2 linked regions of the Homo sapiens genome follow. The protein of the gene in region 2 interacts with the protein of the main gene of each other region in a pairwise test. Each region holds a gene or a part of one and is shown on either strand. Other genes may lie near its edges.

The links. The genes of interacting proteins can lie anywhere in the genome.
Region 1: the proteins of ABCA3 (region 2) and HTR2B interact in a two-hybrid assay, tested with the Homo sapiens proteins (one large-scale study listed by BioGRID and IntAct).

The regions. Positions count from the first base shown.
Region 1 is NC_000002.12:231,114,939-231,118,590, forward strand, and holds part of HTR2B (5-hydroxytryptamine receptor 2B), read right to left. Parts: intron 1-3,652. UniProt on the Homo sapiens protein: G-protein coupled receptor for 5-hydroxytryptamine (serotonin). Also functions as a receptor for various ergot alkaloid derivatives and psychoactive substances.
Region 2 is NC_000016.10:2,285,185-2,288,836, reverse strand, and holds part of ABCA3 (phospholipid-transporting ATPase ABCA3), read left to right. Parts: intron 1-507; coding exon 508-811; intron 812-1,869; coding exon 1,870-2,143; intron 2,144-3,190; coding exon 3,191-3,395; intron 3,396-3,652. UniProt on the Homo sapiens protein: Catalyzes the ATP-dependent transport of phospholipids such as phosphatidylcholine and phosphoglycerol from the cytoplasm into the lumen side of lamellar bodies, in turn participates in the lamellar bodies biogenesis and homeostasis of pulmonary surfactant.

The DNA of each region.
Region 1 (3,652 bases), on a different chromosome or scaffold from region 2:
GATGTCATGCATGTGAGATTATCTAAGTCTCTTTTAGGATTTGATTGTTATATGTCCACTGATAAAATGTAATCTACTTTTCTTCTGGCTATTGCAGGTATATCTGACTTTGACAGGTATAAAGTGATTGTCATAATTGAAGGAAAACCAGAATAATCATCTCAGGATTACAGAACAACAAGAGACTCTTCTATTGTTAACTGTTTAAAATTTAAGGAGCCTGGGGGTGGAGAGAGATTAAAATCTCAGACCAAAAAAAAAAAAAGCATAATTTAGGGGCAGAGTTTTTAGATAGATTTGGCTGTTATTTTCAAGCATCAAGTAGGAGATTTTTTTAAAGTCAGGTAGGATTTCAGTGAAAAATATCTGGGCACTTGACAAAGTATCCAGAAGGTAGCAAGGCTGACACATCTACTTTTTGGTGCCTTCTGTTTCCAGAGTTGGTATGTGGCATTCTGAATAAGAATATTAAAATATTTCTTCCTAGGAACAAAATAACAAAATCAGCACAAACTTTTACTCAGAAAGAATAAATGATTGGGACTTAGTTCTATGTTCAGCAGCTTCTTAAAAAGGGATTAAAGCATCAAGTGGAAAGGGTCATTCATACTTTTCAGTGTATTACTGTAAATAAACTTTGCCTGCTTGTTGAATTGGGGGTAGGAAGGGATAGAGGTGGTAAATTTTAGATTTATTGAGCTGGAAGGAACCTTAGAGATTACCATTGATCTTGCAGATGAGTAAATTCAGGTATAATTAAGTCTGAATATAGAGGTAAGGAGGGGAGGCATTTATTTATTGAAATGTAAATGTTATCTGAAAGTGTTATTTAGAACTGCCACTCAGAGTTTGCTCTTAAGATGGAGAGTGAGGATCGGCATCACCTGGGTACTTAGATATGCAGGCTCTTGGGTCTCATCTCAGACCTACTGTATCAGACTCTGCAGTTAAATAAGGTTTCCAGGTGATTCGTATGCAAATTAACATTTGAGAAGCAGTGCTTTGGAAGACTTTCTGGTAAGGTTTGTGTCTGAGTCTTAAAAGATGCACCTAAGTTTCCTGTTGTAGGGTTGGTTATAGGCACTTGGAATGTCTCATGGAAAGGAACTAATGGGAGGCCTCTCAGAATAAATTAAGTCAGAGAAACTGGTGTTTGGAGAAAATCTAATCAATTGGATTTTCTCACTCTTAGCCATAGCATTCAGATTTTTTGTCATTTAGTGGAAAAGGACCTTGGACACAGGCAGCTTCAAAGCGAACTAACAGTCTAAGTATAGTGAAAAGAATCATTTTAGAGTTTGCAGTGGAAACTACTAAAAATGAGGGTACATCTTGAGCTGAAGTTCTAGATTTAGGACTGTAAGTAGGGTGGTAGGAAAATACTCGTCTAGAGCTATAATCAGAGATATTGATTGCAGTTAAGGATTTAAAAGGCAGGTAATTATTGTGTTATATCTTAGATTTCCTTCCTTGAAGTCCTTACTCTCTCTGTAACATCTTTTAAAATAGTTTGCCAACTATTTAAACCTGTCTATTTAGCTATTCTAGTTATGGATTATACTTCTGAAGATTAAGGTTTGGAAAATTCTAGTCATAAATCTAGTTGCCATAAGCAGGAAGCCATAAGAAAATTCATATAAAAAGTACGTGTCTTTGGAATTTGACCATCTGATCCACATACTCCTAATTGTGGGCTAAGAAGGAAAGTTTTTTAGTGCTGATTTAAGTAACCCTATGAAGCCCTGTTAGCCTCACTTTAAACAGAATTTATAAACTCATTCCCACTTAAAATTCACTAGAATTTTCTTATTACAGTTAGTGCTTTATTGTTAACAGAAATATTGAGATGTGATACAGAATTTTCTTTAAGAAAGAATGAGACTGAAATTTATAAGAGAGATGAATCTTTACAATTCCAAGCCTTTCTCATTTCAAGTTTCGTGAAACACTGGTGGATAGTTTTAATGAAACTAATATAAAAGAAAAAGATAACTGCATTAAATTAATAGAAACCTTATATACAACACAAAAAAGAAAAAGAGGCTTTTTTAAATGCCTAATATATTTGGGTAATCTAAGAATTTATAGAAATTAAAAACAGTTCTAGACACACTTGTTTTATAAAGGGGCTTTTCCTAGTCTAGAGACTTTCATTCTAAAATCATTTTTTAGTTAGTATTAATTTAGCTCAAAGTCAGAAAAGTTTATTTCTGTTTAGAATAACTAAATTAAAGGTTAAGTTGGTATGGTGAAATACTTTATTTCAAAACGTTTATTTTAGGAGTTTTGGTTTTAAGAATTTCTAATTACATTATTTGTTATAATGTATTCTGTCCAATATACTTCCACAAAGACTTAAGACATTGAAAATTTGAAATAATGAAGTGAAACAGTTACATACTTAAATGGAAAGAAAGAAATGTGTATCTAAGGGTCAGTCTGAGGGAAACAAGTTACTAGGTTCTTCAACTAAATTACTGTTATTCTGGGGCTCTAAATTAGACTCTTTCATTAAAATTAAGAAAGAATAATAGCATTTCTGTCAATGCCTGAAATAATTACAGACTGAATATTAAAGCAACAAAACAAGTCCTAGATGGGTCTTGTCTTATAGACAATTGTTTAATTATCTAAAGAATATCAGTAGCACAAATATTTTATTGTTTAAAATGAAGACTGCTTTAAATTCTGCCATGCATGAGGGATGGTAGGAGTTGTCATTCAGTTATATAAATTTTTATTTGTCTCCCAGACAAGGTTCAACAACTTCATAGGTATGGGCCTAGGTCTAATACCTTCCACAGAAAAGAGATCTTGCAGTCATCTGAAGGATTTGTACAAGTATAGGTTGACGCACAAGTATTCTTTTCCACTTAATATGAAATATAACTTTAACTGAAAAGAATACTGAGTTCTAACTTGTCCCTAGGGGGGAAAAAATTCTGTGATCCTCTGAACAGTTACATGGGGTTATTTAAGGTATAAATGTTGGTTCTGTATGCCAAATATGACAGTTTTGGCTGGTCAGATTTCTCATTGACATTTGAGAAAGCGGAATAATAAAGGTTAAGAGTGTGAATTCTAGAATCAGTCCTCCTGGGTTTAAATCATGTCTCTGCCACTTACTTTGTAATCTTGAACAGATTACTTATCCCTCTGCTTCTCTGTCCTCTGTAAAGTGGGGATAATAGTACCTGTTTTATAGGATTTCTTTAATAGAGTTTATATGGATGATGATTAAATACATGTGAAGTGTTTAGAACAGTTCCTGGCATAAAGAAAACACTCAATAAATGTTAGTGCTTATTACTATTGTTTAACAGAAACTAGCCAACTAACTCAACCATGAAAACACTCCTACATAGAAACAAGCCAAATCATCAGTATGAAATAAGAGTGTTTGTCTTTCTACCTGCTGTAGCAAAAGTGCATGCATCTGATTCAGCTTAAAACTTTAAGCTGTACTTTCCGGGGGTGAGGGAGGATGGGCTGAGAACAGTTAACTCTGTTTAACTTTCAATTGAATTTGTCATAAAAGTATGTTTTTTACTAACGTTGAATTTTAACTGCTGTTTATTTTATATACGGTACAGGAAAATAACCTGTATGCATTGCATGCCTGGGTTTTTTGTTGGTTTGGGTATTTTTTTGT
Region 2 (3,652 bases):
TGGTGGCTCATGCCTGTAATCCCAGTACATTGGGAGGCCAAGGCGGGCAGATCACTTGAGGTCAGGAGTTCAAGACCAGCCTAGGCCAACATGACAAAACCCTATCTCTACTAAAAATACAAAAATTAGTTGGGTGTGGTGGTGTGCGCCTGTAATCCCAGCTACTTGGGAGGCTGAGGTAGGAACCCAGGAGGTGGAGGTTGCAGTGAGCTGAGATCACACCACTGCACTCCACCCCCAGTGACAGAGTGACCCTGTCTCAAAAAAATAAAATAGTGCCAACGTGCAGGGCCCCATGGAGACCTGCAGAGTCTGCACAGGTGACCCTGCCATGTGGTGCACTGAGCTCCTCCCACGGCCGTTTCAACGCTCTGGGAGTCTCCGGTGCAACCTCAGCTGCAGGCCCCCAGGCTGGCGTCACACAGAACAGCACCTGCCGCAGGTGGGTGGGGGTCAGGCGCTGGGCCCCAAGCGGTGCCGGTGTCACCTGCGTCCCCTCTGCCGCAGCTCGCCCTGCACTGCCAGCAATTCTGGGCCATGTTCCTGAAGAAGGCCGCATACAGCTGGCGCGAGTGGAAAATGGTGGCGGCACAGGTCCTGGTGCCTCTGACCTGCGTCACCCTGGCCCTCCTGGCCATCAACTACTCCTCGGAGCTCTTCGACGACCCCATGCTGAGGCTGACCTTGGGCGAGTACGGCAGAACCGTCGTGCCCTTCTCAGTTCCCGGGACCTCCCAGCTGGGTCAGCAGCTGTCAGAGCATCTGAAAGACGCACTGCAGGCTGAGGGACAGGAGCCCCGCGAGGTGCTCGGTAAGGGGCATCCCGGGGGCGGGACGGGGGCATCGGGGGCCAGTCCTGCAGCCAGAGTTCGCCTTCCTGACTGCAGCAGGGTCGACATCTGGGGAGGATGGTTCTTGGCTGTTCCGAATGTACTGAGGGAGGTTCAGCAGCATCCCTGACCTTGCCCCACCCCATCATGACCATCAAACATGCCTGGAAACATTGCGGATGTCCCCTGGGTGGCAGATCACGGCACTGAGTCAGGGGAAGTGCCCTGGAGGTGCCAGAGACACTGGCATCCTGGGGCCAGGCTTTGTCAGGCGTCTTTTTACTGAAGCTGTGTCTTTCAGGATCATTCATGGGCAAAATGCAGAAGCATAGTGACTTCAAGTTACCTTTGCTTTGTGATGATGCTGGCCACAGTGTGCCTTCGTGTGACAGGGTGTTTTCTTTCAACATCTTAAAACTCACAGTTCTTGGCCAGGCACAGTAGCTCACACCTGTCATCCCACTACTTTGGGAGGCCGAGGCAGGTGGATCACTTGAGGTCAGGAGTTCGAGACCAGCCTGGTCAACATGGCAAAACTCTGTCTCTACTAAACACAAAAATTAGCTAGGTGTGGTGATGGGTACCTGTAATCCCAGCTACTCTGGAGGCTGAGGCAGGAGAATGGCTTGAACCTGGGCGGTGGAGGCTGCAGTGAGCCAAGATCGCACCATTGCACTCCAGCCTGGGTGACAGAGCAAGACTGTCTCAAAAAAAAAAAGAAAGAGTCTTGGTAGTCATAGTTGGATACTGCCCCAGGCTCAGAACAGGGACCGTGCTCTGGTTAATGGAACCTACTGGAAGGTTTTCTTATTTTGCAGCTCCTTTCCCGGTTCCTGACTGGCATTCAAAGTTCCACATACTGAATGATGACAAAACCTTGCCAGAAATTATACTCTCCTTAGGAGAAGGGTGATGGGGCGGGCAGCTCAGAGGATGCTGGCACCACTCTATTGGGTCCCTGATTAGCCATGCTCAGGTGGCAGGGGGTGCCCAGGTGTCACCTCTTCCTGTGTCCCCTGACTCTGCCATTGCTCCCCAGGTGACCTGGAGGAGTTCTTGATCTTCAGGGCTTCTGTGGAGGGGGGCGGCTTTAATGAGCGGTGCCTTGTGGCAGCGTCCTTCAGAGATGTGGGAGAGCGCACGGTCGTCAACGCCTTGTTCAACAACCAGGCGTACCACTCTCCAGCCACTGCCCTGGCCGTCGTGGACAACCTTCTGTTCAAGCTGCTGTGCGGGCCTCACGCCTCCATTGTGGTCTCCAACTTCCCCCAGCCCCGGAGCGCCCTGCAGGCTGCCAAGGACCAGTTTAACGAGTATGTGCACTGCCCGTCCCTGTCTGCCCTGGCCAGAGCCCCCAGGACTGACTGCCCTGGGCACTGCCACGGGCCCATAGATAGAGCATTGTGTCTGCCCTCCCAAAGCCCCTGGGTCTGGTGGGAAACCCCTGCCACATCCTCCTCCACCATCCACAGCCCCAACTCCCTGTGACAGCAGATCAGCTGTGGGCCATCCCATGCACTGCGGTCCTCACGGGGACCCATGAAGGCTCGGCAGGCAGCCCTGCCTTCTCCTCCTAAATCTACCTGGCTCCTGTCAGCCACTGTCCTCGCTCCACACTGCTCTCTCCAGCAGTGTGACCTGCTGGGCACATGAGCTGAGGTGATGGAGGGTGAGCAGAGCAGGACTTGGCAAGAACTGCCGTCCCTGTTCCTCAGATGGCCGCACGTCGGGAGCCTGCCATGCCATTGTGTGGGCAGGGCTACCCCCTATGCCGGCCACAGAGCCCCCAGAGCTCCTGGAACCACCCAGAGGAGGCCAAAAATTCTGTTAATTTCAGAATAGCCACTCCTCCTCAGGGCAGTGTCGTCTCCACCCACATTCCAGGCTAGGCCTAGGCCTGGCGATGGCTGCGTCCCAGCTTCTGGCTCCATCCCTGCCCCAAGAGCAGAAAAGCAACAGCCCTCGATCTGCTCTCCTTGCCATCAACTCAGGATCCTAGAATGACACACAGAGGCCAGGAGAGGCTTTCCCTTTGCCACACTCCAGGAGGAGGTGGGGCTCGGGACCTCCACACCTGGGCAAGGTCGCCGGCAGCCGTGGGGCTGAGGGCTGGGAGCGGGGTGATGAGGGAGAGTGACGCTGCCATTGTCACATGGTCAGCATAGGAATTCCAGAGGAACCGTTCTCCGGTGGGGGCAGATGTTCCCGGTATGGAACCATGGTGCTTGTGCTCTCCCATAAGCCCCTTTAGTGGTTGGGCTGCTGCCCTGCATGCCTTGGGCGGTCATAACCGAGAACCCGACCTCTCCTGCCACCCAGACGTGCTGTGCTCCGTCCCTGACCTTCTCTGTCCCCCGCAGGGGCCGGAAGGGATTCGACATTGCCCTCAACCTGCTCTTCGCCATGGCATTCTTGGCCAGCACGTTCTCCATCCTGGCGGTCAGCGAGAGGGCCGTGCAGGCCAAGCATGTGCAGTTTGTGAGTGGAGTCCACGTGGCCAGTTTCTGGCTCTCTGCTCTGCTGTGGGACCTCATCTCCTTCCTCATCCCCAGTCTGCTGCTGCTGGTGAGCGCCGGAGGGTGCTGGATCCGTTCCCCTGCAGACCGCAGAGGGCTTGCCCTGGGACCCCTGTGCAGAACCGGAACCAGCTGGGCAGCCCCTAGGCCGGCAGCTCGGCCCGACTCAGGGAGGACAGCTGGAATCCCCTGGCGGCTGCCCCCTCGCCTCCTCCCTGCACCCTCAGCCTTTACCCTCCATGCATGGGCAGCACCCGGAGCAGCCATCCTGGTTACAGCTCCGGGTGCAAGGGGACGAGGGGAAAC